2 separate regions of the Homo sapiens genome follow, and region 1 is linked to region 2. Evidence: fine-mapped expression QTL. A gene starts in region 2. The other region holds a variant in brackets. All regions are shown on one strand. Distances are between the middles of the regions.

Evidence for each region. PIP is the estimated chance that this variant, and not a neighbour inherited with it, causes the effect.
Region 1: its variant is fine-mapped to the expression of CAPN10 in whole blood (TOPMed, PIP 0.97).

What each region holds. Positions count from the first base shown.
Region 1 is chr2:240,551,904-240,567,594 of GRCh38, reverse strand. ANKMY1 (ankyrin repeat and MYND domain containing 1) reads left to right here and starts at 9,607. Exons shown (of 18, transcript NM_001282771.3): 1 at 9,607-9,714; 2 at 10,243-10,405; 3 at 12,540-12,729; 4 at 14,538-14,681. The coding sequence starts at 10,260. It overlaps DUSP28 (dual specificity phosphatase 28), which reads right to left and starts at 7,238. Exons shown (of 2, transcript NM_001370465.2): 1 at 6,518-7,238; 2 at 2,339-6,265. The coding sequence starts at 6,910. The coding sequence ends at 6,128. RefSeq lists silencers at 905-1,144, 6,750-6,799, 6,980-7,389, 9,448-9,667, 15,622-15,691 and enhancers at 2,615-2,694, 6,020-6,379, 6,410-6,479, 6,512-6,653, 10,711-10,780 and 2 more. The variant G/T (reference allele first, on the strand shown) is at 8,013.
Region 2 is chr2:240,576,873-240,592,563 of GRCh38, reverse strand. It overlaps CAPN10 (calpain 10), which reads right to left and starts at 5,830. Exons shown (of 12, transcript NM_023083.4): 1 at 5,512-5,830; 2 at 3,090-3,221; 3 at 1,553-1,749; 4 at 414-631. The coding sequence starts at 5,652. CAPN10-DT (CAPN10 divergent transcript) reads left to right here and starts at 6,248. Exons shown (of 1, transcript NR_103792.1): 1 at 6,248-9,814. It overlaps RNPEPL1 (arginyl aminopeptidase like 1), which reads right to left. Exons shown (of 11, transcript NM_018226.6): 10 at 15,574-15,691; 11 at 11,192-14,965. The coding sequence ends at 14,672. RefSeq lists a silencer at 5,564-5,793 and enhancers at 4,993-5,819, 5,758-6,052, 6,104-6,283, 7,274-7,643, 8,014-8,083 and 2 more.

The DNA of each region.
Region 1 (15,691 bases), 25 kb after region 2:
AAGGGGTGCTCGCCTGGCAGAAGCTGCTAGTGAGCTCACAGCGGTTAAATTTTGAGGCTGTGGAATAACAGGGGCCACCATGATGTCGCTGTTGTCATCAAGTAAGAATTCAAATTCCTAGGGACAAGGGGCTTCTGGGGCTGGGGAACTATCCAGGAACCCAGGACACCTCTCTCTTCTGCTCCATTGAGGTGTGGCCGTGCAGGGCTGGACTCGGGTACCGCACTCGACTCAGCGTCAGCCCTGAGTAGTGTTTCCTGTGTCTGGACTCAGTCTCCTCGTTGTGTAACCCTCTGTGTCTACCCTCCTTCCGTGGGGCGGGAAGGAAGGCTGAGAGGGAGAGTGTGCGTTCACGTTTGCGGGACAGAGCACTGAGGCATCATTTCAGTTTTCCCGTAGGACCTCAGGTCCCCACGTGCCCTCTTTAGGGACACGGCCACGATCTTGGGGCACCCATCCCAAACTCACCAGGAACCCCTAGGCTTACACAGTCACTCAGAGGTGTGGATCAGCCTCGCATCCAAGGCTGACAGGGAAGACAGCTGAGATGGGACCCTCCTCACTGCCCCCAGCGCCCTGCCCGGTGGGGCCCTGCAGTGCCAAGGGCAGACTGTTTTCGATGGCACCCCCAGTTCTACGGGGCTCTCCAGAGCCCACCGGGCCATGTTCCTGGCTGGAAGAACCTCAGTTCTGCACACGCGGTGCCACACTAGCTGGGCCTGGCCGTCCGGGGGGCAAGTCACCACAGGGAGCTTGGGGTCTTGCCACCCAGAGCCCCGCATTGGGCTCAGGGAGCAGAGGTTGGGGTCTCGCCCTGGGCACCTCTCCGCGGCCAGTTCTGCACACAGGAGTCCAGAGTTGCTGTGGCACCTCCTCCCCGGGGGCCCAAGGGAGCGCCTCCCACCGCGCACGTATGTGAGGAGCTGCCCTACTGCACCCCATGGAGCGGGAGGCGCGGCTGAGCCGAGGGGGCGGGGTCTGCAACTGAGCCGCGGGAGCCTCTCGCGCCGGCCCCGCCCCGCCCCGCCCCGCCCGAGGAGGCCCCGCCCCCGCCGGCCTGACGCCCCCTGGCGGCGGGAGGCTACGCCGCATGCAGGCCTGGGCAGACACCTCTGACTTCTCTAACCCTGGCAGAGGAGCCTGGACGTCGCGACTGTCAGCCCTGGCTTTCTCCCACAGGAGTTTTCATACTCCAGCTTTTTGGTGATCAGCGCAGTGAAGTGGCTGCGCGGCATCTGCACCCCAGCCTTCCCCTGATGCACCCGAGGGAGGGGTTCCTGGCTTCACCCACTAGGAGGTGGGTGTGGGCATGGAGCGTTTTAGCAGGCTGGGGAGGGCAGCAAAGCTTCCAGGAAGAAGCAGTGTTCAGACAGGGCCGCGCCCAACCCCGACAGAGGACCAGGGAGCTACCAGTTCTCAGATGGAGCTGGTGGGCTAAAAAGGTCTGATGTGACCCACAGGTGTCCTTCAACCTGGCCGGGGCCCTGCTGCCCTTGTCCCCTTGTCACCAGGGCCAGGTCAGCAGGTAAAGGGTGTGCCCTGCCCTGAGGCAAGGGCAGCCGAGGTTTTCATCAGGGTGTTGTGAGCAGGGCTGAGCCGCGGGGGAAACCGCAGACCCAGGTCCTCCCTCCTCTCCAAGCCACTGTTCCTCACCCACTAGTGGCGACCGGCGGCTGCTTCCTTCCGGGTTGATGAAAAGGTTGCATGAGTCATGAGGAGCTTATCTAGAGAGGCCAGCGGCAGGCAAGCCCTCCACAGAGATGGGGACTGCCCTGGGCACCAGCTTGTGATGGGGGCCGCGGTCCACAGCGATGGGTGGTGCCGGCTGGTGACACGGCATAGAGGGGCAGCGACCAACAAGGTGTGGCCTATGCTTGAGGCCCAGGTACACAAGGCGTGGGGAGGGAGAAGGCCCTTCTCACTACCACCCCCACGCTTGGCTGACAAAACCCGTGCTTCCCATCCCCCCAGCTTTGGGCTCTGCCGCATCAGAGATGTTCGGTCCCCAGGTGGGATGCTTTTGCTTAGGAACACAATCGGGTCTCACTGGGAGGGTGGCTCAGACACGGCCCAGCCACGGAAGCATGAGACAACACAGGGCTGGCTCTGGCAGGTGGGCATGAGGCTTTGTGAGGCTTGGGGGCCAGGAAGAGTGGTGCCTCCTACTTCTCTCTGGTGGTGCAGTACAGGTAACGGAGGCCACAGCACCTGTGTGGGCAGCCATGCAGGGCCTGGGGCCTTAAAAATGAAGGATCGAGTCATGCCACCAGGTGAAGGCCATAAGCAGCTTAGGCACTGGCTGAGGGTAGAACATGGAACGAGTATTGGAAAAGGCAGATAAGCACCAACCACAGTATTTTACTCATTGACGCATACAGAATGTAAATACGCGTAGTTGTATATATTAACCAATGACTACGTTATCTGTGATTCACATGTATTACACACATTTTCCTTTTCTTTCCCCACTCCTATTTAAGGAGTGTTGATTCTAGGATAGTCTTTAGGCCACAGGATGTCCAGGAGAGGTGGTGTCTGAACTAGAGAAGGAATCAACATGCTTGGATGCCTCCAGTGGTGGCTTATGGGGTTCCACCCTCACACGGCGGGAGAGGCAGCACCTTGTTGGCTTGACAGTAGCTATGTGACCTTAAGTTGGGGTGCAATGTTGGTGAAACAGAGATCAAAGTAGGAGAGGGGTGCAGATGCTGGAGGCCTCCCGGGTTCCCTCACCAGGCCGTCTGTCAGCACAGCCTCCTTCTCCCCTGCCTGTCACAGGAGGGGCTTCCCATGTTCGGTGCCCAGATGAGACCAGTGAGAGGTCTGGGAGGTGGGAGGAAGGAGATGTACTGTGGCTTCAGCAGCTGGTGGGCAGGAGGCTCTGCTGGCAGCTCCAGGTGCCCTCCACAGCCAGGACATCAGGCAGTGGGGATCTGGGTGGCAGGTCCCTGTGACTCCCCTATGTCTCCTCTCCTGTCCTTGGCTCCCCAGCCTTCTTCTCCCTGCATTCAGTTTCTTTCTGCCCAGTTCCTTAAGTGGTTTAGATTTTCCTGACCAAGGCTTGTTTAATAAGCTGAGCTGACCAGAGGGAGAGGACGGAGCAGATGGTGGTGCAGGGGTCCATGTGGTCTGATGCGCAGACCCTTGCCCCACCAGCAAGAGGGGACAGAGACCCTCTGGAGCTGCATTTCCGGAAGATGGGGCTTAACTGGGAAAAATGAAAACTCAGTGTGGAGGCGAGTGCACTGGGCGGCCGTGGTGCCGTGGGACCATGGACCTCAGAGGGCACTGGTGGCAGGACCGCAGAGCGGGCCCTTCAGGCCACTTCAGGGCCACTGAGGTGGAGGATTCTCTTGTGAAGAAAGCAGTAGGAAGGATGGAAAACCATACTTCCTAGACAGGCATCTGGAGCAGTTTCAGTTTTGATTGCTGTTATTACTACTGATAACTGAGCAAAAGTGGTGATGATGCTTGAGAGAAATTTCTGCAACCCACAGTCAGCAATTATATGTACAGCCAAGTACAGCGTGTGCTCATTTCTCCCTCGATTTTTGAATCTGCAGTTTACCAAAGCTGCCAATGCTTTCTTATTATTATTTTATTGCAGCAAATTCCAGATGTGTCTCCAACGGGAAAATATACAACCCTCTTGCCTTTGATGATTATTCTTATGATTTCAGGCATTAAAGAGGTTATATACATCATAAATGACATGGCAGACAAAATAGTTAAGGAACACAAAACTGTTATGACAAGATTCATGGGACACGTTTAAGTGGAAAGAGGTGAATGTGGGTGACACTGTGAAGGCCTCGAATGGGGAGCTCCTTCCTGCAGACACAGTCCCGATGTGTTCATATAGCAACATCTAATCCGGATAGAGAGACAAATGTAAGACACGGCAGGCTTTGCCAGAAACAGCTGAAATGCAAACAGAAAACCAGCTGTTAGGCCTATCTGGAAAAATAGACCGTGAAGCACCTGATCGTCATTTCAATGGCTGAGCTTCCGCCTAGGTGGTAAAAGCCCTGTTCCAATAGGGCCTGACTGGGTCTTGTTAAGAGATACACAGCTTAGAAATGCTCAGTGGATTGGCCGGGCGAGGTGGCTCACGCCTGTAATCCCAGCGCTTTGGGAGGCCGAGGCGGGAGGATCATGAGGTCAGGAGATTGAGACCATCCTGGCTAACACAGTGAAACCCCGTCTCTACCAAAAATACAAAGAAATTAGCTAGGCGTGGTGGCGGGCGCCTGTAATCCCAGCCACTCAGGAGGCTGAAGGACGAGAATGGCATGAAGCCGGGAGGCGGAGCTTGCAGTGAGCCAAGATGGCGCCCACTCCAGCCTGGGCACCAGAGTGAGACTCCGTCTCAAGAAAAAAAAAAAAGAAATGCTCAGTGGATCACTGGCATAGTTGTTTACACTGGCTTTGAAACCAAATTCCTGCAGAATTCTGTCAAATCACCTCAAGAGATCAGAGATTAAGAAAGTGACAATGGGCGGGTCTCCCTTTGGTTCCTGCTGCTCTGGTCATGTCTGTAGTGAGCTGCGTGGGAGCCGTGCTATGGAATAAAAAGTATGGTGACATTTGGTACCTGAAAGAGGATTCCAGCTCACAGCATTGTGTTTGACATACTGGTGTTCATCATCTTATAACAGTACCTCATCCCCATTAGTCTGCTGGTCACTATGGAAATTGTGAAATATATTCAGGCCCAGTTTATAAACTGGGATCAAGATGTGCATTATAAAGTAAATAGTGTCCACACCATGGCCAGCACATTCAATCTCAGTGAAGAACTTGGGCAGGTAAAATTTCTATTTTCTGATAAAATGGGAACCCTCACTTGCAATGTTAAGACATTTAACAAGTACCACTGCAGGTGTCATTTATGGTGCAACACCTTCCATCCGAGCCCTGATATTTTAATTACCCCAGTTTATTGGAGAACATTGAGAATGGCCATCCCACAGAAAACTATATAGACCAATTTCTTACCCTGTTATCTGTGTGCCACACTGTTATCCCTGGAAATATTATAATCTACCAGGCTTCCTCCCCGGATGAAGCAGCTTTAGTGAAAGGAGCAAAAAAACTTGGCTTTGTTTCCCTACAGGAACACCATACTCTGTCACCGTAGAAGCCATGGGTGAAAAAATCACTTTTGAAATTCTTAATGTCCTGGAGTTCTCTAGTAATAGAAAAAGGAGGCTGGGCACGGTGGCTCACGCCTGTAATCCCAGCACTTTGGGAGGCTGAGGTGGGTGGATCACGAGGTCAGGAGTTTGAGACCATCCTGGCTAACATGGTGAAACCCCCCATCTCTACTAAAAATACAAAAAATTAGCCGGGTCTGGTGTCACACACCTGTAGTCCCAGCTACTCAGGAGGCTGAGGCAGGAGAATCACTTGAACCAGGGAGGCGGAGGTTGCAGTGAGCCGGGATTGCGCCACTGCACTCCAGCCTGGGCAACAGAGACTCTGTCTCAAACAAACAAACAAAAAAAAAGAAAGAGAGAAAGAAAAAGGATGTCCGTAATTGTCCGAACTCCTATGGGACAGCTCCAGCTGTATTGCAGAGGGGCTGATGAAGAGAATAATTCCCCAATCACCCAAGTTGCCCTTCAACAATGTCTTCATCAACAGCTTTCTTGATCTAAATGTCCCACGTGGGTATGCATTTTCTCAAACAGAAGCATCCGTGGTCACGCAGGAAGAACTAGTCCGTTCTTATGACACTACTAAAAATAAACACAAGAAGAGTTGCTTTTCCTGATTTCACCTATGACTCAGATTCTGATTACTGTAGTCTGTACTCATGTCCTTCCCTGAGACTGGTAGAATGCGCCGGCACCCCCAAACACTCAAGATTCTGGAGTGTAAATAATGGAGGATCCCTATTTGCTTTTTCTTAATTTGTCTTCGATGTTTTACCAAATGTATTTCTTTTTGTGTCTGTAAGATAATTTGTGCATCACCTCAGCCGGAAATATAAAATTAAAAGCACTATGTTTCACACACACACACACAAAGGAAAACTCGATATGACAGTGAGGAAGAAGGGTAAAGACCAGCCTTCTGTATCAGTGCAGGGACATCCTTCCTCCAGGCAGCAGGCCTTCAAGCTTCAAGCCTCAGGGCCCAACCCTAAGGCTGGGGGCTCTCCCTGCAGGCAGGACTGGGCCTGGAGGGCCTCCTCATACTTCTGGAGCTGAGACCAGAAGCCCGGGTTCGGTTCTGCTACCGGGCGAGCGCTCTTCACCATCTGCAAACAAGAAGTGTACTGAATAACCCCAAGTCGCGCTAATGGCCAGCAGGGGCCAAGGCGGGCCCAGCTGTAAGAGTGGGCCCCGCCCAACCCGGAAGTGCCTCTCTGCTTCCCTAAGCCCGCCCTCACGAGAGAGACCCGCCCCTCCCGGAAGTGCCTGTCCCAATCCCGAAGCCGGCCCCGCCCGGAAAACTCGTCCCCGGAAGACACGCCCCTCTCGAAACACCGCCCCCCTAAAGGCCCGCCCACCTGGAAGGCCTTCGCCAGGCTGAGGCCGCGGTGCCGCATGAGGTACGCGGTGCAGACGGCGGCCGAGCGGCTGCGGCCGTTCTTGCAGTAGACTAGGCAGGCGCCGCCGGCGCGCACCGCGGCCTCCATGGCGGCGCACGTGGGCTCCAGGTGCGCCAGCAGGTCCTCAGCCGGGTCGTCGAACACGGGCACGCGCAGCTCTGCCACGCCGGGCGCGCGCGGGCCGGGCTGCTGGCGGGAGACGTTGACGCACAGCGTGACTCCCGCGCGCGCCAGCTGCTCCTCCGCGCCCGCGGCTCGCGCGCTCCCGAGGAAGAGTGAGGGCGCGACGCGCACCAACGGTGGAGGTACGGGCGAGGCGGCCCCGCGGCGCCCAGCTTCTGCCGGTCCCATGGCGCCCGCCGAAGAGTCTGCTTTTGGGCCCTGAGGATCTATTTTGGGGGCTCAGGCGCCCGCCCAGGAGTCTATTTGTGGGAGCCGGGCGGGCCGCCGGGCGCCCCCGGGTCCTAGAGGCCTCCGAGGTGGACCAGGCTGGGGCTTGGGTCCCCCGCGGGCGCTGGGCCGGGACAGGGGGCTTGGGTCTCGTTGGGGCCGGGGCATGGCGGGAGGTTTGGGCCTCACCAGGGCGCCGGGGCCTTGGACCGCTCTGCGTCCCATGTTCTCTGTCCCCGGGCGCCGTCCTCCCCGCCCCCGCGGCCTGTGGCACTGGGCTTGCGTCTGTGGCTCTTGGGCGCAGCGCCCTGCCCGCTCTACTGCGGCGTCTGGCGCGGAGGCGTGGCTTGGCCGGGCCCGCCCACTTCGCGTCCGCGTCGTTCGGCTAGGGCCCCGTGGCTACCCGGTGCACGTGGACGGCGGGCTGCGTGGTTCCCGTGTCTTCACCCTTTCCCTAGTGACTGCGTTGTCGGCTTTACGTTTATTCCTTTTTGTGGCCCGCTTTGTAATTGGTGCATTTTTTTCTATGTATTATAACACATGGCTCATAAAATAAAACTAATTTCTATTTTCATCACTTCTTCATAGACCACACTATTCCTTTTGCTGTTTCTAAGTAATTTATTGGGGTCAGCATTGTAACTTTAAAAAATTTAATATCACTTAATGTCCATGAAATTGCCATTTAAGACTCCTTCAATTTTTCTGACATCTGGTAATTTTCAGGCAATGGATACACTGAAAAGCAACTGTCTCAACAGCCCTACAGACATTTAGCAATTGAAGTTTCAGTTGCATACAGTCTCTCTCTGGGTTATCGTCATTGCTTTGTCCATCAGCCTTCTAGCATTGGTAACTGTCAGATCTTTATTGCAGCCTGGGGTTCACTCTTGAGCTAAAGACTCAAATATGTCTGCAGCCAGGTCTTCCCTGGTTGCAGCTCCAGACATCACCTCCGTGGAGGTCTTATCAGCATCTGTTTCCCACTTCCTCCACCCTAAGGAAGGACTCCAACTTTCCTAGGATGGAGGAGTGGAATTCCCTTTTTTTCCCTGGCGTTCAT[G/T]GGAGCCATTGATTAGGTTGGGACACTGTCTCCCTCCGCTTTCTAGGAGTTGGCTCTGTCTCTGGCCAAAAGTGAAGGCCACACTCCCGTGACTGCTCTGGGAATGAGCTTGGTGTCTAATAACCCATGAAGGAGAGAGCACTTTGGAAGGCTCCTCTGTTCTCTCATGGCCATAAGGGGAAGCCAGCCTTGGGTGAAAGCAGAGGAGATGGGAGAGCCAAGGTCCTTGATGCCACTGTTGGGCCACTGAAATGAATCAAACAAAACCTGAAGTCCCTCCTCCTCCTGGACTGTTTCATGAATCATCATCACCCTTTACGGTTGGAGGATGGTTGAGGTGGGTTTTCTGCTCCAAAGCCTGCTACTTGAACCATCATGCTCCCACTCCATTGAGGTAATGGATTGGGAACCAATTCATCCTAAGTGTCTCTGCATCTCATTGCCACACTTAGTCTGGGCCAGCCTCTGTCTCCTGGACTTGGTGCTAGTCCCCCACAGTGTAACCAGAATGTGCTTGCTAAGAACAGAGGGTTTCTACATGTTGGTTCTGACTCCTTAGCAAGTTGTAATTCACAACTAATGTGGGTTGTGAAATCAATTCTGTGGGTCATGATCAGCATTTTAGTTTTTAGAGAAATAATAGACTACATGAAAATATTAGAGTGCATGCATGTAGTATGCCGAACTTTTAATGAAACATTTTTCTGAGTGGTTTGTACTGGGTCGTGGTGTAAAATGAGATTTTAGAGAGAAGTGAACTCAACAGACAGGCACTGGCGTGTGGAGGCAGAGCCCCTAGAACCCCAGAATCCTGGCCCAGCCTTAGTCCTTAGTCCCCGGAAAGCTAGCCAGTGGGGAGGGCCAGGGCATCAGCTCTTCACACCCCCTGCCCTGTTCTCAGAGGCAGTCTGGGTTGAGAAAACGCAAGCCCTGCACCTCCAAGAGCCTCTCCCCTCTTTGCAGGAAGGCCCAGCTGTTTCCCACCATGGTGCCTCTGTACATCCCAGTCCAGTTCCTGAAATGCGCTCTGTAGCCTGGAGAGCTCCTGCGCATCCTGTGAAGCCCCATCAAGAATCCGCTCTCCTGCAGTCCTTCCCCGAGGCCCTCGGAGGGTCCAAGACAGCCAATCCCTCTTCTCTGCGGTGACTCTTGCGGCCTCCCTCATCTCGTTCCCTCCGCAGGCCTCGAGTTACCCTTGCGCCTTCCACATTTACTGAATGAACAAAGGCCGGGGCTGGAATCAGGCAGGGCTTGAGCAAGTCGTGGCTCCACGTGCTAGGTGATCAGGGCAAGTTAATTAACACTTGGGCCTCAGTTTCCTCAGGTGTCCCACGGCGCTCCCTGTGCCCCCATCACGGGAGTGTTGGGGGAATTTAGCGCTTTCTCTCCCAGGGGTACTCGGCCCAGGGGCTGACCGGGTAAGCGGGAGGCTGGCACCGAGGCCCGCGGGGTGTCGGCCCCAAGCCCCTGAAGTCACAGAGGGCGGGCACGCCCGGAGGCGGGGCCGGGTGCGTCCTGGCGGGGGGATTGGCGGAGCCGGAGAGTGGCAGCGGGCATGGGGCGGGGCTGTCTCCAGGGAAACGCGACGCTCTCCGTAGGCGCAGGGCTGGCAAGCAGTCGGGACGGGAGCGCGGGCGTCCGCGGTGGCTGCAGTCCCGTCGGTCTCCCTGCTGTCCGGCGCGAGCTCTTCGAGTCTTGCTTGGTGCGGTCTCGCGACAGGAGCGCTGGGAGCCGGGGCTAGGGGGATCCCGGAGCTCCGTGGGGCGGCGGGTGCGGGGGGGCGCCAGGCTCGCGGTCCCCACCCCAGGGAGGGGCCGAGGGGCTGGGGGCGTGGGGTTAGGTGGGCGCGGCGTCTCCCGAGCCCACCCTCGAGCGCTGGCTTCAGAGGCCCGTGGCTGAGACCCGCTGTTAGCGGCGCCTCCTGGGCGATAGTGGGTGCGGGCCTGGCCTGGCCACGTGGCCGCGACCGCCCTTGCTGTGATTCCCGCCCACGAAGGGACAGGGACACCTGGGGACGCGGGTGAAGTTTACCCATGGTTCCGACAGGTCTCCCTGAGGACTCCCAGGGATGGTGGTCCGGGACCTGTGGGTGGCGGCCCAGGCTCCGGCGCGGTTCAGGGAGGGGCTTGGGTTCTCTGAGGCTCAGGGGCCGCGGGCCGGGCCTCGGGCGCCCTCTGAGTTCGCGGCGGGAGCCCTGGGGGCACATGTGCGGTCCTGACGTCGCTTGCAGGTTGGAAGACCACAGACATGGAAGGGGCCCATGCCTCCCTTAGCTTAGAGGACGAAGTCTCTGGGGCTGGCAGCCGCCAACGCCCGCTAGAGGGGAAGGGCGGCGAGACCCCTGCTGCCGAGGAGCCGGGGTCCCTGAAGAACTACGCTGTCTTCGCCACAAGGTGCGGGGGACCCTCCAGCGGGGAGGTCCGACCCTGACCTGGGGCCCAGGGTTAGCCGGGATTCTCCTTAAGGCAAGCAGTAAAAATCCCTGAACTGTGTTACTCCCTGAGAAACTAGTTTCTGGAGAAATCTGAAAGCCTCAACACTGTGTCAGCAACCTACTGAGGAAAACGACAATAGATGGTAATTGGAACCTTCTCATGTCCCTTCCTGCCTGCACACTCTGCCACCCGTGTCGCCGCCTAGTGGAGGGAGGGAACGTTTCCCTCACGAGATGGGGCTCCCAAGCTGTCTCCATCTTCACAGCTCTGTTGTTCACAGCCAGGGGCTGCCCTGGAGTCTCACTGCAGCATCTCACGAGGTCCCCCTGTCACCCCATCGTGCTTGTCCCTGTTTGTGGGCCTCCAAAACTCAGTCCCAGCCCTGGCCCAGTGTGATGGGTGTTGGGGACCAGCCTCAACACCACCCGTAGAGTGCCCAAAGTCTAGTGGGGACAAAGGATTGAGAAGAGACAGGTTAAGAATTGAAAGGTGGGGAGCCAGGGGGCCAGTTGCAAAATGGAGGCTGCAAAGGGCTCAGAGTTCTGGTCTCCACACTGTTTATTGAGCACACTTAGATCTGAGAAGCAGATGTTCAGGGCGAAACAGTGAAAGGGTGGCAGTGTGTCATAGGTGTAATCTATAGCAATATTGGTTTCAGTGAATCTCCTTTGTGCTCAAACAGCATATCTTTTAACTTATCGGAGAGTAACTGGTGGGAGCGGGCTTAGCTAGGAGCCTGCATGTCTGTCCACAGTCCAGGGCTTCAAAGGAGAGTCTTTCTCCTTGAACACAGTGTTTACAGATAAGAGAGCGGATCTCGCTCTGGGCATGGGAACATGATGGCAATTAGGAGGCTTTCCTCCTCAGAGGCCTCTTGTGGCTTTCCACAACTTATTGTCCCATATTTTCATGGCCTGTTTATGCAGGCACCCCACAAGCCCTTTTCCCACAAGCCCTTTTCCCAACAATGGGCTTTGGGAGGTGGCTGGGTTTAGATGGGGTGGTGAAGATGGAGCCCATGATGGGATGAGTGTACCTATGAGAAGCAGAAGAGCCCAGAGTTCCCCCATCCTCTCTCACTACCATGTGGGGAGCCAATGAGAAGGCGGCTCCACAGGCCAGGAAGAGGACCCTCCCTAGGCAGGGACGCTGCTGGCACCTTGGCCAGGGACGGCCGCCCTGCACAGCTGAGAACGGAAGGCCCTTTGAGACGCCCCATCCATCTGTGGGGGTCTCAGATGCTCTGTCCGTCTGGGGGGGAACTGAGATGCCCTGTCCATCTTTCATGGTCTGAGGCACCCCATCCACCTGTGTTGGTCTGGGATGCCCTGTCCTTCTGTAGGGGTCTGAGACACCCCATCCATCTGTGGAGGTCTGAGGCACCACGCCTTTTGTGGTCTGAGATGCCACGTCCGTCTGTGATGGTCTAAGACGCCCCATCCGTCTGTGGTGGTCTGAGACGCCCTGTCCATCTGTGGGGGGTCTGACATGCCCTGTCTGTCTGTGGACGCCCTATGAGTTACGGCAAATCCACCCTGGTTTGTGCTCCCCGCTGTTGCAGCATACTCCCCAGCCCTGCATCCATCCATCTGTCCACCTATCCACCTGTCCATCCTAGTATGAGCTGGCTGCCTCTCGAGCTGCCTTCCGACCTTCCATGGGTCCACATGTGTGGGCAGTCTGTTTTCTGTCCAGCTTGGGGCTGGCACTCCTGGCCCTTGAATGAGGACCCTGCTGTGGGCACCCACGTCCTGCAGGCAGCTGGAGTGGGACAGAGGGCCATCGATCTCAGGAGATGCCGCCAGCAGGCCCGGGCTGGACAGGCCGACTGGTCCTGCCTCTAGAGCCTGGCAGCATCTCTCCTATCCGTTGGCAGCCTTACTGTGCATTCCACTTCCTGTGTGGCCTTGGGCAATCGCTGCACCCTCTGTGCCTCGGTTTTCTCTCCAAGTGGAGTGGGGATGCAGCGGCACCTGCCCCGGGACTGTGGGATGAAATGAGATGCTGGGTTGTGCTCGGGGGTTGTGCTCAGCAGTCACTGAAGGCACTGCAGCCACTTCACTCTTCCCTCCTTCTGCTCCTGTCCTTTTAGGGATGTTTCAGCAGCCCCTGAGAAGGAAGAGGAGGAAGCTGAGGGCCCGCTGAGGGCGCAGGACCTGAGGGAGTCCTACATCCAGCTCGTCCAGGGTGTGCAGGAGTGGCAGGATGGTTGCATGTACCAGGGGGAGTTTGGGTTGAACATGAAGCTTGGATATGGCAAATTCTCTTGGCCCACAGGCGAGGTAACTGCTTCCACACTTTCTCCGCCTCCTCCCCTAGGGCCTCTGGTGGCTGGCCTTTATCCTTCCAAGAGTGATGGGACGGGAACTTTTAGGCCCATCAACAGGAAGGGTGCTAGGCTAAAGTTTTTCCTCCTTGAGAAATGTCCAGAGAAAAGCATCTTTCCCAACTTCCAAAATCACACCCATGGTTTGCTGGGGTCCCAGGATGAGGTTTGGGAAGCTGTGACTTAAGAAGATAAGTTCTTATTCTGGGCAGACGTTTTAAAATTATGAATTGCCATAGCAACTCGTATATTTACCTTGGTGAAATTGCCTGTGTCTAGGCTTAAGCAGAAGGCAGCGAATGTTCTAAAAGACAAAATGAGAACAAGTTTTGCACCCCCAGGCTAGGTCCTGAGCCCACATTCAATGCAGCTGAAACTGAAAAGGCCTCTGTTGGCGCTTGCCATGGAAAGTCCAGGGGTAAGGTAGCCTCAGGCCTGGCTGGATCCAGGATTCTAATGATGTAACTAGGTCCTCTCTCTTTCCATCTCCACGAGGGGGTTCTAAGACTGACCTTGTTCCATCTGCCCAGCCCCTGGGGGTGGCATCAAACACCCCTGGGAAAGAGAAAGGCCCCAGCAGGACGCTGGTCTGACTTGGGGATGCATGAAGTGCATCAAGATGGGGCAGGGGTAAGGCGTCCTCTGGTTGGCCAGGCCTGGCCCAGGCACTGGGGCTGGGTCCCTTGGGGAATCCTCTCTGTAGGGAGAGGGCATCTGTTGTCAGAAGAAAGGGAAGGGACACTAAGCTGTGAAAACTGCCATGCCCTTCACGTCGGGGTCAGGTCTGGGTGGACTGTGAGCATGGATGGCTGTGCGGGCACTCCAGGCCCACCCTGTTTCTGAGAAAAAGGTGGTGCTTGGCACTCAGCATGAGGTCTCCTGGCTGGAAGCCCTTGTCATGAATGTCACATTCTTTTTTTTTTTCGAGATGGAATTTCACTCTTGTTGCCCAGGCTGGAGTGCAAATGGCACAATCTCGGCTCACTGCAACCTCTGCCTCCAGGGTTCTAGTGATTCTCCTGCCTCAGCCTCCTGAGTAGCTGGGATTACAGGCATGCACCACCACGCCCAGCTAATTTTTGTATTTTTAGTAGAGACAGGGTTTCACCATGTTGGTCAGGCTGGTCTTGAACTCCTGACCTTAGATGATCCGCCTGCCTCGGCCTCCCAAAGTGCTGGAATTACAGATGTGAGCCACCACACCCGGCCAAATGTCACATTCTTTTTCCCTCTGGGGGCCTTGGTAAAGGGGCAGGCTCTGATACACTCACTCCTGTTGTTTGTGGAGCTCACGTGTCCAACCAGTGCTGAAGAGTTATAAATCAGAGTCCTCCCCTGTGCCTACTGGGGCCTACAGCCAGCCTTCCAGGGCCAGCCTGTCACCTGTGAACCTGGCAGGGAGCTCAGCAGCATGGGGCTCCTGAGTGGGGACAGGACCCTCCAAACCTAAGATCAAGGTCACCAGGGAGAAGGCATGTCCGTGCTCTCCTGACTCAGGATGTCTAGGTAGTTTTAAGCCTCCCCACAGTCCCCCACCTGAGGAGAAGACAGAGAGGGAGCCTGGCTATCAGGCTGACTGCCTGGTAACCCCTCTGGGTGCTTCAGTTGCCGACTCTAATAGTCGCATGCCAGGCATCCCTGAGTTCTGCCACAGCCCTGGGTGGTCCCCATTCATTGCCAACCAGGCATGGTGGCTCAGCCTCAAGGGCATCCCGTCAGGTTCTGGAAGAGCAGCAATTTCTCACCAACTTCTCCATCTCACAGTCATACCATGGGCAGTTTTACCGGGACCACTGCCATGGCCTGGGTACCTACATGTGGCCAGATGGCTCCAGTTTCACGGGCACATTTTACCTCAGCCACCGAGAAGGCTACGGCACCATGTACATGAAGACACGGCTTTTCCAGGTGAGGGGGCTGCCATGTGTTCAGCTGGGGTCGAAGTGGCTGTGTGTGTCTAAGCCACTGGACAAAAAGATATTTCGGTCCTGGGGAAGTTTATTTGTTTAGCTACAAGTAGCTTTTTTACTTTTAATGATTAAAATGGTACCAATAATAAGGATATAGACTGAAAATAAAAGCCTCCTTGCATTTTATTCCCCAGAGGGATACCAGCAAATTGTTACATGTCCTTTAGATTTAAGAAACGCACGTGTTTATTTTTAAATATGTAAACTGGATCACTGTACACATAATGTTTGAAATGTGCCTTTTTAAATGGAGAACATGCCTAGTCTTTCAAATACAGATGCCTTTCCCCCTTTTATTACAGTATAATTTACAGTAAAATTCACCCATTTTAATATATAGTTCTGAAATTTTTGACAATTACAGGGTTGTGTAACTACTACTGTAGTCAGGATATACAAACAGTTCCATCACCCTCAAAATATTGCCATGGCCTTTGTAATAAATGTCTCCTTCAACAAACTGTGGCTGATCTATTTTGGCCTAGAATTTTGCCCTTGTGAGAATGCCATATTAATGGTGTCAACAGAAAAAAAACAAACTCTGCAAAATATTTTAAAGAGGTTTATTCTGAGCCAATATGAGTGGCTGTTACTGAAACACCAGGGGTTCGCTCTAGATCTTTCCGCTTCCTGCACAGAAAGCCCATCACTGAGACAATGAGTATTGCCAAGGAAGAAGGCTGTAATTTGGAGGTGCAGCTGAAGAGATGGGAGCTTAATCTCAAATCCATCCCCCTGACTAAAACTAGGGGTTTATATATCAAGGAAGAAATGTAATAATGTGTGAGAAAGCAGGAACTTGGGAGGGGTGAGGAAGCAGTCACGGTGAACAAAGGGCCTGGAGTCACATTGAATGCCATGGTCTGGTGAGTTTCAGTTCTTTGATACTTTCTGAGAGGAGTTTCAGCTCTTTGATACTTTTTGAGAGGCCTGAAGGTCTTTCCTGAG
Region 2 (15,691 bases):
GTTCTGGGATTACAGGTGTGAGCCACCACACCTGGCCCCTTTCATTTTTTGGAGACAAACTGTTTTTAACGAATGTTATCTATCACTAAAATAAAAAACAGGTTTTGATTTTGCCAGGTTGCCAGCTGGGCCAGGGATGGCACAGACAGTGGGCTTTGACTCGGTGCCACCTCTTCCTGCCTCGCACTAGTGGAAAGGACTGGTCAGGGGAGAGAAGGGCCACGTCCCTCTGGAAGAGGACAGTAGGGGAAGGTCACAAACTGAGGACACCACCCTTGAGAACAAGCTTACTTCTTCCCACTTAGTCCTGACAGGGCTGTGTAGCCAGTCACATAAAAAGCTACAGTGTGCCTGAGGCCTGGCAGTGGGGGGCACGCTGGCTGCAGCCCTCCCATGCTGGCCACGTGCCTCACCTGCTCTGGGGCTGAGCACGCAGCAGCTGATCAGACACTGGTCCTTCAGGTGGAGCAGCTGCCGACAAGTCCTGTGCTCCCAGCGGCCTGGCCTGTCCTGCTGGCCTCCGCTTCCTGCTACGCCCTTCAGGTTCCATCTTTCTGCCAGGCCGCCGGTCAGGTCCACCAGGGCATCCGCCACCTGCCCGGCCCACAGGTGCTCGTAGGACCCATGGACCCTAGGGGACACAATCACCATGGGAGTGAGCCTCTGGCATTGAGCATGGCCCCCTCTCTGATTCCCATGGTCTGTAGCACCCCAAATCGTCCAACCGCTGCCTCAATCCCACCTCTTTACTCCCCTCTGCCTTCTTCCTCATCCTCACCAAGTCAAGGCTTAGCCTCACCTTCAAACGCCTTACTTCACAGCAAGCGTGAGCGCCCTGCAGTCCTCTGCCCACACACAGAAACTCTCTGGCATCCGGTGTGGGCACAGGAGCAGGGCAGGAGGCGTGGAAGCTATGGATGCCCACATCCCTTGGCTCTCAAGCTCCAACCCTGCTTTTCCTAAAACAGCCCTTGGGATGGAAGGGCTCACTGGGCACTGATGTCACCAGCCAGCCTTCCCATGTTCACCAGCTTCCCTGCCTGCCTGTCAGTCCAGTTGCCTTTGGCAAGAAGACAAATGCATTCTAAGAGGGAAGGCTATTCAATTATGACTCATGGTGAGGGTCCTGGTCCCCTGAGCCAGCAAGCACCGTGATACACAAGTGTTGGTATGCTGGGGTAGCCTCATTCCTCCCCAACGACTACACAATGAGTCTGCCTGTCCCAACCACTCCACAACAAATATAAAGAAGCATCTTTCTTGCTGGGGCCGATAAAATAAGGAGGACGGCACACATGTTCTCTGTGGAGAACGACTCCACGCTGGGCTTTGGAACAAGGGAAGGGAAAGCAGGGAGTGGGCAATCCACAGGCCCAAAAGAAGAATCTCTGCACCTGGCCTGTCAGCCTGACTCACAGAATGAGCTGCCAGACCCTCAGAACTGAAGGGGGCTCTGCAGCCCAGAGTGAGCAGAGACCCTCCTGGGGCAGCCCATGGTAGTGGCAGCTCCCACTTGCCCCAGGCCAGGCCCTTCAGCCCCCAGCACACGCACTTGGCGTAGACCTTTTCCAGTAAGGGGAGCCAGAACACATCCTCCCTCTGGCAGCGGGAGAAACAGAGTCTCCCTGCAAGGCACGGCAGGCGGTCATCTGTGGTCACCTCCACCCAGCGTCCAAACTGCCAAATGCGACAGGTGAAGGAGCCCCGGTACTCCTGGTCGGCCCAGCTCGGCTGTCCCGGAGGAATGACCTGCCATGCACAGGGAGAAGCAAAAGGCGAGCGTGATATAAGCACCACCCGGCGCTACTCCAGTGTCCCGGCCGCGGTGTGGCCACAGCTGAGTGCTCCACAGGCACCGCGGTCTGCAGAGAACTCTAACGCACACCTGGATGTCGCAGAGAACTCTACGGCACACCTGGATGTCGCAGAGAACTCTACGGCACACCTGGATGTCGCAGAGAACTCTACGGCACACCTGGATGTCGCAGAGAACTCTTCGGCACACCTGGATGTCGGCGCCTGCACAGGGCTGCATCACCCACATGAAATTAACAGACCTCTCATTGCAAAACTTGAGGACCACACCGAGGGAGCCACATATCCCGGGACACACTCTGCTGCCCTCACTAAAAGCATCTGACCTGAAGCCAAAACAAATGTGACATTCAAGGGCATGAGTGACCCAGTTCTTGACCGAGCTGGCTGCAAGCAACACGTCACCACAGGAACAGCAGCCCCTCCTGCTGCTGGGAGCCTGGCGCCCCGACACTGGGCCAGCTGCTTGCACCCACAGCGTCCACCGCAGGGCTCCTTCAGGGGTAAGCATTCTGACCCAGCATCGGGGGAGTGCAGGCTGGGCACCAGGCACCTGGTGCGGTCCTGGCTCTGCCACTTTACGGCCAGAAACACAATGGCAGTGATTTTAGCACTCTCGTTTAAAAAAAAAGTCAAAGCTGGTAAGACCATGTGTCTGAAAGCCAGTGACTGTGACACGCTTACCATGGGGCCTGGGACATGAGTGAAACTCTGAATGAGGTCACACTGTTGACGCCGCTGCATTAATCAGCAACACTTAGCAACAAGCCAAGCATAAAACGGTGAACACTCCCAGGTAAGGAAAACCTGAGAAGGCCTTCTCCTCCCAGAGTATCTGTCTACCCACAGAAACAGGTTTAATAACTTTTTGCAAACTTATATTCAAAACCTGTAAGAAAACCAGCGAGCTAGCTGAGGAGAGATCTGAGGCAGAGGCTGCCAGCCAGCCCCGTCCTCCTGTGAGCTGGCACATTTGTCTCTTTATTCTAAACGTGGTGATCTGACTCCATGGAGTCCGGGGGTCAGGAGAGCACAGAGCAGGGCGAACCTCCCTGATGGAGCCTTCTGGCGAGGCCAAGGCACCCCCCCCTGCAGCAGAGGGACAGAGTGCAGTCCTCAGCCTCTGCCTTGGAACTCTCCTGCCTTCCCCCAACACAGCAGGAGATCCGGCTGCGGCACAGCTCTGCTTTCGCAAGGCCTCCTGGTACTCAGCAGGCTGGAGAAACGCAAAAAGAAACCGGCTCCAGGACAAACACAGGGAAGGGGCCCCGCACCTGGTCCAGGAGGTGCCTGCTCTTCTGCAGCGCGGCGCAGGCACACAGGAACCAGCAATCCCCCAGCAGCCCCTGCTTCACCTGCCCTTCCCGTGGGTCATCTGGAAACAGCCGGGGTGTGGCACAAATCTCCTGAGATACAGAAAGTTGTCCAGAGTTAGATCATGCCTGCTGTGGAACCCTTCAAACTAAGAACCCAAGGCTCTAGATGACAGGAGTTGGGGTGGAGCTTTTCCGATCATCAGTGTTACCCAAAAAGGGACAGGAAGGTGGTTTCCTGCAGCGGGTGTCCTTCAGCTCCTGGCTTCAAATGCCTCTGTCCAGCTTAATTCTGGGGTGCCTTCCTTCCTTACTGGAAAAATCCCAAACTCTAGCAAGCTCCTTCTCAAAACAGCTAAATGTTGGCTTCGAAAAGTTTCACTTTTTACTCATGCTGGTAAATCTCAAATGTGTCCTCCATCCTGCTGGAAATCTGTTTCTCTAGCAGGCTCCATTTCCCACACCCCCTAACTATCATATACCTTCCCCTTTCTCCCCGTCTACTCAAAACATCCACACTGCCCTTGCCCACCCCTCTGAGCTTCGACCTTGCCTCCTGCTTCTGGACCTGACCCTCTCTCCTGCCCTCAGAGCCTGGGCTCCTCTCACAACTCCTTCCCTTCCAGCTCCCCGGGCAGAATCCCACCCCCATGTTCTTTAAGACATTATCTCTCAGCACCATAGTCTCCTTCAGGCTTCTCTTCATTACAGCTCTTGAAAGAGCTGCCATGCCCACTACCTGCTTCCCATTCACTCTCCACACAGGCTCCTCTAGCTTCTGAGCCAATCATGGCCCCTAAACTGCCTCGATCAATGTCGCTGTCACCTCTATGTTATCAAACCCACTGGGCTTCTCTTGGTCCCAACTCTCTTCCCCAACTACTCAGCAGCATTCACAACAGCAGAACAGCCATCTGCTGCCCCTGAGGTGGTCCCCACTCAGCTTCTGTGAGGCCGCATGCTCCCCGGGTGTCCTCTCCCTCACTGCCTGCTGCTTCTCAAGTCTATCTGTCAGGGCACCTGCCTGACCCCAAGAAATGTTAGGGTTCCTCAAGGCTCAGCCCCAAGGCCCCCTTCTTCTTTACTGATACTCCCCCGAGACACTCTCCCAGGCTGTGGACTGTAAACCATCTAATATGCTCCGCCTCCCAGAAGAATGCCTCTAGCCTATCCCTGCTCCGTATCCACCTGCCTCCAGGACAGATCCACCTGCCTCCAGGACAGCTCCACCTGAAGACGTGAGAGCAAAGCCCAACTCTAGGTCACCCCCAGGCTCTGTCCCAGGACCACCATCCACCCACCTGTTCAGGCCAGAAACCCAGAAGGCATGTTGATCCCTCCACTATCCTCACCCTCTATTTCAATCAGTCACTATGGCCTCTCGATCCCCCCTGCAAGGTACGTCTCAAACCAATCTACTCCAAACCCACATCCTAACAGTCGTCAAGCTAATCTGAGCCCCTTCATCTTTCTCCAGGACCACTACAATGGACCCTTGCATTCTTGCCCCGACAACCCACTTCCCACCCAGCAGCAAGAGTGAGCTTGTAAAAACACACATCCAAGAGAACCACTCCTCTACCAAAACCCTCTAGTGGCCTCCAGCTGCACCTAAAATCAATCTTTTAACAAAATAAAACCCAAATTCCAATGACAAGGCTCTACATGGTCTGACCCTTGCCTCCTCCCAGGCCCTTCAGTGTTGTCCAAGGAAACCAGGTGGCCTGTCAAAGCCATCTCAGTCACGAGAGCCCAGAAGTTCCAGCTCTGTTCGAAGACTGGCGGCCATCAGTTGTCTCCGCTAAGACCGCATCCACTTAGGGCAAGGTTGCTCCCTGGGCAGTCTTATTCAGCAGATAAACCATTTCTAAAAATATGAACACAGCACTCGGCCAGGGCATCCCTTGGAGGTGCCATTTCTAGGTGTTACAACTGGAAAGGCAGGTGCACAAAATCCAAAACTGAAATTCTATCACGCTTTGCTTTGTGGGCTCGGCCTAGCCACTTCAGAGGGGCACGAGCGGCCCTCTCTGCGGGAGGAGCAGACACAAACGCTCTTCAGGGCGAAAGCAAACAGGTGGGGCGGGGTTTGGGGCTCTGTTAAAACGCCTCTCGCAGCGCTCTGAGCCTCCTGGATTGGAGCTCTCGCAGGCGGAGGCCACGACCTAGTTTAGCGTCCTTAGGGTAGCGCCGAGTCCTGCTCGTTCTGGGCGGGGGTATGAAGGAGGTACGAAAAGAGGGGGCCGGGCGCCCACTTCTGAGGAGAACAACGGCGGACCCTGCGTTCGGAGCTACCCTGGCCGCCCACCCCGCCCCGCTCCCTGCGAGGAGCGGAGATCTCAGAAACCAGAAACGGCGCCCACCGCACCCCACACGGCCCCACCTGGGGCCGCCTCCACGTGATGTCCTCGCGGAACTGGGCCAGCGGCGTAGACAAGTCGCAGAAGAGCGAGGAGTCCGCGGCGGGGAAGGCGGCGTCCCGGAACAGCTCCCTCGCCGGCGTCGCGCCCCGGCCCGCCCGCATCCTCGGCTCCGCGGGCTCCCATCTGCAGCCGGTTGCCTCGGGGTCGCAGCCCCGGAGAGAAGGCGAGTCAGCCGCCGCCGCCTCCGGCCCGCCCCGCCCGTTCCCCGCCCGGCCCAGCCCTCCAAGCCCGAGGGCCCCGCAGGTGCTGGACCAGGCCAGTACGCCGGCCCGCTAGTCTCCCATTGGTAACCAGGCGGCAGCCAACCGGGCGTGGGGTCTCGGGTCACGTGACAGGCGGCCCAATCGCACTCGCGCGACGGAAAGCGCCACGGACGTCGGAGGCCCAGGGGGCGGGGCTCCCGAGCTCCGCTCTTTCGTGGTCGGGCGGCGGACCGCACTGTATTTTTTCCTTCCGGGGGCGGCGGAGCCCAGGGCTATCCCGGCCTCCGCTCATACCCGGAGGGCCGGCAGGCGTTCAGTCCTCCAGCCGGTGAGGCTCGGGCCGGGGTGTCGGGACCGCCTGAACACGCGGGCTCTGGGAGCTTCAGGGACCAGGGAGCCACCTCGGCCGAGTTGCGTCGCAGACTACAGCTCCCAGCATGCGCCGCCGCTCCCAGCATGCACCTTCCTCCCGAAACGCGTCTCTGCTTCCGGCGCTCTGCTGCGGAGGCCGTGGCCGCGGGTAGTTGGGAGGAACCGAGATTTACGCTTGGTAAGGCAAGTTGCGAGCTGTCCGGCGCCGGTCGAGTTCCTGCCGCCGTCGTCGTCAGGCAGGGGAGAAGGGGGCCTCAACCCCTCTAGTGACAGCTGTTTGCTACCTAATAGGGCTTTTCATCCCACCGGGCCCCAGGGCCTTCGTTAGGAGCCCAGCAGGCTCAACTTCTTGCTGTGGTTCTGGAAAAGGGAGTGACCACCTGGCTCAACACCTCTCTCTGTGATGTGTTTGGGAGTTTTGGGAAATGAGACGGCTCCGAGGGAAGAGCTTGAGGGAGCGGCGTCGCACTCGTTCGACCTTCCCGGGCCTGGGCTTTGTTTCTAGGCATTTTAGGTTGAACGCTCTACATCTTAACTGGGGGCAGGGGAGGTGGCCAGAGCATCCCGCTGAGCGTTTTCCGATTCCCCAGATGGCCAGGCACCTGGTCCTGGTGGCTGGACAGTGACCCCGTGGACGCACATTTACAGCTATAGCCATTCAGTGCCGCGGGGAGGTGAGGATAGTGATCCTGGGACCTGCTCGAGGATTCACCCTTGCCCCAAGAACCTGTTCCATTCCCAGGAATGAAGGCGGTCAGGCAGGGGAGGAGAAGGGGGCCTCAACTCTTCTAGTGACAGCAGTTTGCCACCTAATAGAGCTTTTCAGATTTTGCCTCCTCAGGCCATTTTACTCAGCCTCGGACTATCAAGGATGGTCACATTGAAGCTGTTTTTCTGCAGTCAGGAGCGAAAAGTCCCGGCTGTTGAAGGAGAAACTGAATCTGGTTCAGGAGTCCCAGGTTCCTCCCTCTGAGAGGCCAGGTGGGGCCTGCGTGAGTAGCAGTTGTTCAGGTGGCAGGACACTGCTGTTTTCATCCCACCTGGCCCCAGGCCCCTGATTAGGGGCCCAGAGTGCTTATGTACTTGCCTCGGTCTGAGAAAGGGAGTGACTGCATAGCCCAACACCTGTGGGATGCCTCACTGCCCAGATGTTTCATCTCCGGGATGCTTCATTGCCCATTCAGCACCCTCTATGGTGCTGACTCTTCCGGAAGATGTTTCTGATTCCTTGCTAGGCTGGTGGTTGCACCATAGCTGAGAGGACTCAAGAAGAGCCTGGTCTCAGCTTCACCTAGGAGTCCCGGAGGAGTAAGAAACACGTATCTTTCCTGTTCTGGGCACATATGGGTGGGTAGCAGAGCTGAGGCTAGCTGAGGATCCCGACTCTCCTTTGGGAGCCTTTGTTGTGCCGCTCTCCCAGGCTGATCAGATCTGGAGAGCTAACAGCTTCCTGTGGCCACATCTGTGTCCAAGGCTGGGCCCATGCCTGTAGCCAGATTGCCAGGATCTGGAAGGGGCCAAGAGACAGCTGGTGCTGGGTAGGCAGCAGCCCTGTGTCAACCTGCCCCCACTATTACCCCATGCTGTGATTTGCATGTGGTCTGCCCCTGCCCAAAATGGTATTGAAATTTGAGCCTCAATGAGGCAGTGTTAGGAGGTGGTGCCTAGTAGGAGGAGTTTGGGTAATAGGGGTGGATCCCTCATGGATAGGTTAGTGTCCTTTGTGGAGGGGTGAGTTCCCATGAGAGCTGGTTAGAGAGTCAGCCTTCCTGCGGTTGTCTCTTGCTTCCTCTCTCGCCATATGGCCACGTAATCTCTTTGTGCATGCCTCTCCCCTTCTACTTGCTGCCTTGAGTTGAAGTAGCATGAGGCCCTCACCAGGTGCAGCTGCCCAATCTTGAAATTTCCACCAGAATTTTGAGCCAAATAAACCTGTTTTGCTTTTTTAAAAAAATAAATTCCCCCACCTTGGCTGGGCGCAGTGGCTCACGCCTGTAATCCCAGCACTTTGGGAGGCCGAGGCGGGCGGATCACGAGGTCAGATCGAGACCATCTTGGCTAACACGGTGAAACCCCATCTCTACTGAAAAAAAAAAAGAAACAAAAAAATTAGCCAGGTGTGGTGGCGGGCACCTGTAGTCCCAGCCCCTCACTCGGGAGGCTGATTGAGGCAGGAGAATGGTGTGAACCCGGGAGGCGGAGCTTGCAGTGAGCCCAGATCGCACCACTGCACTCCAGCCTGGGCGACAGAGCGAGACTCCGTCTCTAAATAAATAAATAAATAAATAAAACAAACCCAACCTCAGGTATAGCAGTGTGAAACAGACTAAGACATTCCACATGCCCTGTGGTCCCATCTGCTACCCCAGGGTGCAAAGATGTTCCCTCAGCCCTGAAGAATGACATTCCCCCCGGCTCCTGGGATATCTGGAGGGGTTGTAAGCAGCTTGGGTTGGTGAGATAAGGAGTTTGGGGGGCAGCTGATTCATGACCCTGGCCTCCTCAACTGCAGGCTCTTGGTCTGAAGTACTGTAATTAAAGTATGAGAGCCTCGGGGCCCTCACTTCAAGGAGGGAAGAGCATCCCCATGCCTCAGCGTTTGGGGATTGTAGGGAGATGAGAGTCCTTCAGGTGGGACTAGTTCCCGCCATGACCCCACTGCTGGCCAGTGGCCTGAAACGCATCTGACCACTTCTCAGGTTCATGGGTGTTGAGGAGGAGCCCTGTGGAATCAACCCTGTCTGCCTCCTCTTATCCTGCCACTCCTCTTGCTCTGTCTGGATGACTGCCCTTGTTTTTCAAGGGAATGTTCCCTGTCTTCCTCAGCCAGGATTTTTTCTGAACTTGACATCTCCGTTTGTTCAGGGGGCAATCATTGGGCACTTCACTGTGCTGGTCCTTGCATTCTCATGGAGATGCAGAGATTAAAAATTAGTATCTTGTCCACATACTGCCCAGAGTTAGCAAGGATTGCTTTTCTGTGGATTTGTCTCAGGTCGGGCACAGTGGGGGTAGGGTCCTTCTCGAACCTTTTCCTAGCCTAAAGGTTCCAGCTGAATCTTCCCAGGCAGGGCTGAAACAGGAACCATTTTAGGCTTTGCTGCAACCCATGGTCAGTTCTCCAAGAAAAGTGAAGAGGGTTCCACCTGGGGCAGCCCTCAAGGGCTCAGAGGGCCAAAACACACGTACAACATGTTGAGACACTGAGTTTGTGCGATCCCCACACATCTCAGCAGTGAGTATTTCTGCCTCATTTTACCGATGAGGAACCTGAGCTTCAAAGGGAAGAGGTGACAGCTCAGGACCACACAGCTGTAGGTAGGAGGCAGGAAAATAGGGTCTGAGTGCAGGGAACATAGGCTGATTCACACTTCAGTTATGATAGGAAATACCTTCTCCATAGGACATAGGCCAAGCAAATGACTTTGTAACTTCATCCTCTCCATCTGCATAACGTGTGCCCCAAGTAACCAATGGAATCACCTAGAGGGTGTTTAAACTCTCAGAAGTTCTGTAACAGGCTCTCCATCTACATAACGTGTGCCCCAAGTAACCAATGGAATCACCTAGAGGGTATTTAAACTCTCTGAAGTTCTGTAACAGGGCTTTTGTGCTCCTATGCTCAGGCTCACCCCCACACTGTGGAGTGTACTTTCATTTTCAATAAATCCCTTCATTCCTTCTTTGCTCTCTGTGTGTGTTTTGTCCAATTCTTTATTTAAGACGCCAAGAACCTGGACATCCTCCGCTGTTAACAGTAGGACGCATCAACTCCTTAGAGTTGGGGCAGCCAGCATAAAAGGAGGCTGACCTCAGCCCGCTTCATTTACTGCAACGTGAGGAATGGATTCTTTGTTGGCAATATTTTAGATTGAGCTTTTTTTCTCATTATAATACATGCTTAGTAAACAGAGTGGGAATAAATATGGTACATGCTCCTCCTTATAGGAATTTTTTTCCTAACTCTTTGTATGAAGTGGTTTTGTGTTCTTCAACTTTATTGTGAGGATTATGCAGATAGTTTGCACAGTTGACTAGTTATCTGAGGGGAGCATATTTTGGATGTGGGCTATTTTCTGCATTGTGGGTGTTGTATTCCCTCCACACTGGAATTTTTCTGTTTGCTCATTCATTTGGAACAAGGAGAGGTTTATCTGGGCCTGGCTGGATGGGTGGGTGGGTGGTAGTGATCTCCTTAGCACTCTGCCTGTGCCTGTTAAAAGCCCCTCGGATCTGTGCTGGGCCTGGCCACTCTGTGGACACCCTTGCCAAGCTCCACCTTTAGCTGGCATGTCCGTGCTCTTGGGCTTCTCTCTGACCAGGTGATTATTCCGAGAGATGGGGGGTGGGGGGGAGCGGAGACTAACAGCTGACATCAGATTCCTCTTAGTAAAAGGACAGTCTTTGTTAGGAAAAACATCTTGGTGGGTGCTTGAGTAAGAGCCCTGAGGGCATGGCTAGTTGAGGTGGCTTAGCTTGCAGGATGTGAAGGTCTGATGGGAAGGGAAGAGAGATGTGGGGGAGAAAATGGCTGAAGAAATGAGGCTGAGTTGCGGGGTGGGGGCAGATGAAGGGCCATGGAGGGGACCCCTGGAGGGTAGAATGCAGGCAATGTTGAGAATGAGGATGCCTTGATTGACTGGAACTTATTTTTTTTTTTTTTTTACTCTCCACGACCTAATATCCCCAAGTGCATTTTCTGTTCCTATAACAATACCACGGACTGGGTAATTTATAATGAAAATAAATGTATTTCTTATAGTTCTGGAGGCTGGGAAGTCCAAGGGCGAGGGGCTGGCATCTGGTAAAGGCCTTCTTGCCACACCATTCCATGGGGGAAGATGGAAGAGCAAGAGGACACACAGCAAGAGACAGCTAAATTCATTTTTACAACACATGCTCATGATAACGAACCCACTCTGATAATGACATTAATGCATTCATCAAGGCAGAACCCTCATGGCCTAATCGCTTCTTAATGGTTCCACCTCTTAATACCATCACAATGGCAATTAAATTTCAACATGAATTTTGGAGGGAACATCCAAACCAGAGCACTGTTGACTGAGTTTTCATTTTTTATTTTAGTAATTGCTTTTTAAAAAATTTCCAGGGTCTCTGACTGGTTCTTTTTTATAAACTACCTGTTCTTGTTTCATAAGTGCCTCTTCATATGTTATGGTTTATTTCAAAAGTCGTCTTTAGGTCTGAGATTTTGATTATATGTGTTCTAAAGTCCTTTTCTGATTTTTCTGTTGCCTCTGTCTCAGGTGTAAGTTTGGGTTGAGTGGCCTGTTTTCCTTCACACTGTGTTGCTGCCCTGGGCAGGTGATTCTCAGTTGTGCCTTACCTTTACATCTGGAGTTTCCTAATGTTCTGTGCAAAGCATCTGGCCTTAGGAGAGAAACACCACCAATAAGTCCCAGTTAGAGTAGGGATGGCAGAGAAACACTCTGGGAGACAAGTCTGGACTGAACCTGTCATGGCCTGAGGGACTTAGAAAACCTTATTTGGACCTCCAGGGCCTAGAAATTTGCATGGGTCTCCTTCACTGTTTTTTCAGGCTTCAGCTTTCTAATCTATCTCTGTAGAAACCAGTCTTTCATCACGCTTCTTTTCCCTTTTTGAACATCATCTCCTACCTGCCTGACTAGGCCCTAATCCCCAAAATGCAGATCTCTCTCACATTCTGGCCTCAGCTCCGTCGTTGTCATTAGTGCTGTTTGCCATCTGCCCCCGCTTTTGTGCATATGGTGGGGTTGCAGCCCCTGTGGTTGTAGGCCCCTTAGAACTTCCACTGCCAGTGTGAGCCCCTCAACAGCTCTCTTATCCCTGGCAAGGTGCCTGGAAACATTTGAGATCTCTGTTCATCGGTACGGGTCCGAGAGTGGTCACATTGAAGAGAATCCCCCCTTCCCCTGCCAGCCTGAGGTGGGCCTGCAGCATGAGAAAGCTTTGTTGTGTGAGACGTCTGCGCTTCATAGTTGTGTGGCTGGAGCATAACGTGGCCTAATAGAGAAGCTGGCCGCTAGGAGAGGGGTGCTGTGCTAATAAAACGTGCGACCTGCCAGGATTTGGAATGTGGGCAGGCTGTTAGGTGGGGCAAAACATTTGGTAAAGCTCAACTGGGATGACTCATGAGGCAGACCGTGAGCTAAGTGTGCGTATCTAGTGGAGAGGTTGGGAAACAACACTGGCCTGAGTATCGGCCGGAGGCTGCATTGGACAAGGGACTGCAGGGAAGCGACGAGCTAAAAAAAAATTCTGCACTTGCAAGCTGGGTGGAAGAGGAACAAAGGTCAGGAACACAAGGACTTAGGGCTGAAAGAGCCCTCCTGTGTACCCCACGGGCGGGCACAGAGCCAAGACAGATTGTGGTGAGGGTGCCATCCTGGATCCAGATGCCCTCCTGCCCCCAGGGTCATGACGCTGGGCACTGCTGCTGAGTTTCCCAAAGCCAGGTGTCAGGCACAGGTGCGCAGCTCAGCAGCGTCCGGAGGTGGCGCTGTGGGCGTGGCTGTAGGCACGTGGAGTGGAGTCACCCGCAGACCACAGAGTCATTTCGAGAGCTGAATTGCAAAAGAAAGAAGAGCCCAGGATGAAAGTCTGTGACTGCTGGGACTTGAAAACAACCTTGGCGGGGAAGAGGCTGAGAAAGCAGTTCTGCCACTGAGCAGGGCTCCTTTGAGGACACCATCAAGCATGGTTAAGAAACAGGAAAGGGGTCCTCCCAAGGCTGGAGCCCCAGGCCACAGAGAACATGACTTGGGGGAGTGGGGTGTCCACTCCCAGGCAGGGGCCCTAGCTGTGCCTGCCTGGCAAGACTTTAGATGGCCATGCAGCAGGGGCTGCCAGGTGCCCTCCATACCCGCTTTCACAGGGGTTACTGCAGTCATCCTATCCCTGGGTGTGAGGGGCAGTGGCAGTCTTCTAGTTCCTAGGTCTCTGGATGGGGTGGCGCCTCCCCCAGACCTGATGTGAAGAAGGTACATGAAGCAACACATGTAGAGACGGCCCCAGACCCTAGACCAGAGTTGCCACCGCCACTGGAGGGGACTCATATGTCCTTGGGAGGGGAGGGGAGGGGCGGGGCATCCAGAACAGGAAGGAGGGTGAGTGGGACATTTGGTGACTGGGGACTGGACAGTGATGGTATCAGGGTTATTTGCCCAGCACCTCCTGCCCTCCCCACTTCCTGGCTGCCATGTGTGGAGTGGGGCTGTGACTGGGCCTGGCCAGCGGGTTGGGAGAAGAGACGTGCTGCTTCTGGGCCACGGCATGTTGGCCAGGTGTGCGTGGCACTGAGATGGTGGCGCCACATCCTTGGGGACTGTGAAGGGCAGCGACACCTATCGCCTGGGAAAATGGAAATCTCAGTTCTCCAAAACAAAACATGCCTGTCACCTTGTACCCATCTTGGGAAAGGATCACCACTGAGGCCGGGATTTGGCTTAAGCCACAGGTGAAGGCCCAGAGTGAAGGTGACACATGGCTTTCCTGTGACATCCAGAGGCTACTCAGGCCCAGGGGGTCCAGCCAAGGGGCTGGGCAGGATTCGGGGAGCCTGCTCTCGGGCTTATGTATCAGAGGAGGGGGCCACACCCAGCTCCTGACCAGCTCCAGGCCCCAAGTCCCGGCAGGCCAGCCCACCCTACACAGCCAGGAAGATGCAGAGGACAAGAGTCGCGAGAAAGAGCGCAGGAGATCAGGTTTGCAGAGTGGAAGTTTAATGGGACCATCACCGTGATACCCCATCACAGCAGTCCCAGGCTGGAGGCCCCAGGCTCTGGCCGCCTCTCCCAGCATGGTGGGCCTGGAGAGAGCACCAGCACCACCTCCCACTTTCCCTGGGGTATTGCTTTGCCCCTGTGCCTCCCACCCCAGGAAGCTACAAGAGACAGGCTGTCCTGTCCCCACACTCTCCCTGGGTCCTGGGACTCCCTGTTCTGAGGGGCTAAGGTTGCCTGGGGCCAGAGGGCCCTCCCCAGGGACAACCATCCTCTCCCTGTGTCCCCTGCCCCCCACACTGAGGGAATGTCTGTGTCCTTGTTCCTCTGCCAGGGGCCAACTGAGGCTGCCAACCCCAGGGGCGGGGTGCAGGGCTGTGCGGGGAGGGTGGCTCAGATCCCTGCAAGGAGGCGTGCTGCAGGGACAGCACAGCCTGGGCCCCCGGCAGACATTAAGGCACAGTGTGGCGGTCACCATAGGGCTGCTGGGGCCCTTGCCCCGGGGCGGCACCTGGCAGGTGCTGGCATCCGGGGCTAGGCACAGCTGTCAGTGTTGAGACAGGAGGCATGGTGTGTGCGGGCTGGCCCCAGGGCCTGCAGTGCAAGAGAGCTGGGAGTGGGGAGGCCAGGTCCACAGGTCTCTGCCAGACACAAGGAGGTCCCTCTCCCCATTCTCCCTGCCTGGGAGAGCCCAGGGGAGGGGCTTGTGGGCCTGGGCAGAGCTCATGGCCAGAGCCGAGACGCAGTCATGGCAGGCCTGGCCCACAGAAGGCACAATTGTGGTGTCTGGGAGGTCGAGGGTCAGCCCGCCAACAGGGCTAGGCAGACACATTGACGTCCCTGAGAGAGATGGCACTGCTGGGGGCCTCGTCCCCAAGCAGCAGGGCCTGTGCGTCCGAGTCTGTGTCTGCTTCAGCCTTGCCCAGCTCCGTGCTGGGCTCTGAGGCGGGCTCTGTGCTGGAGCCCAGGCCCTGGGACAGGATCTGCTGGATGGCTCTGCGCAGGTTGGGGTGCAGCCGGCCCTGCGTCTGGTAGAAGACCTCCAGCGCGAAGGACTTGAGGGCACCGGTGCAGAGGTCCTCGTACAGCGGGATGGTGTACATGCGTGACATCTGCAGGAGGGGCACTCGGTCACACTGGTGGGCTCCCCAGGCCCCTCGAGCCAGCCCACCCTGCCAGCCCGGCCAGGCGGCCCTCCTGCCCCTGGCTTCCCAGCTTCATCATTAGGGCTGTGGCCTGGACTCCGGTGGCCAGGAGGCCTACCATTAGCCTCCCACCTCCACCCTGCCCTTCCAGGCCAACCATGGAGGCCCCATCTCCAGGGAACCTGGGCTGGAGGGAGCACATACAGGGAGCAGGGCAGCCAGGGCCCACGGGCCTGAGGGCTCTGGCCTCCCTCTGAGGAGCTGGGACGTCCCCTCTGCCCAGACCAGGACGCTGAAGGCCCAGGGCCCAGCAGGCTGTGGTGGCCTGGACCCTAAACTCCTGCTCCCAGCTGGTCCCTTCCACAGTTTCTCCAAGAACTGGTGGAGTCCAGGCTGCCCTCTGGTACCTGCACCCGGTGCATGCCCCCACTCCCAACAGACCCCTACGTCTTCCCCGCCCCATTCTCCAGAATGTGCCTGGCCTGCCCCAAGGGCTCAGACTAGGGAGTCGGGTGGGACTCCCAGTCCGCACGGCTAGGCCGTTCCAGGCTGGCCCCCTGGGCAGGTGACCGCACCTGGCTCTCCAGGAAGCGCCGCACCCTGTGGAGGTCAGGATAGTAGTCGTTGCGGACCACAATCTGCAGCCAGCGGATGCGGATCTCAGCGTTCATCGAGTCCAGCAGGGAGGAGTAG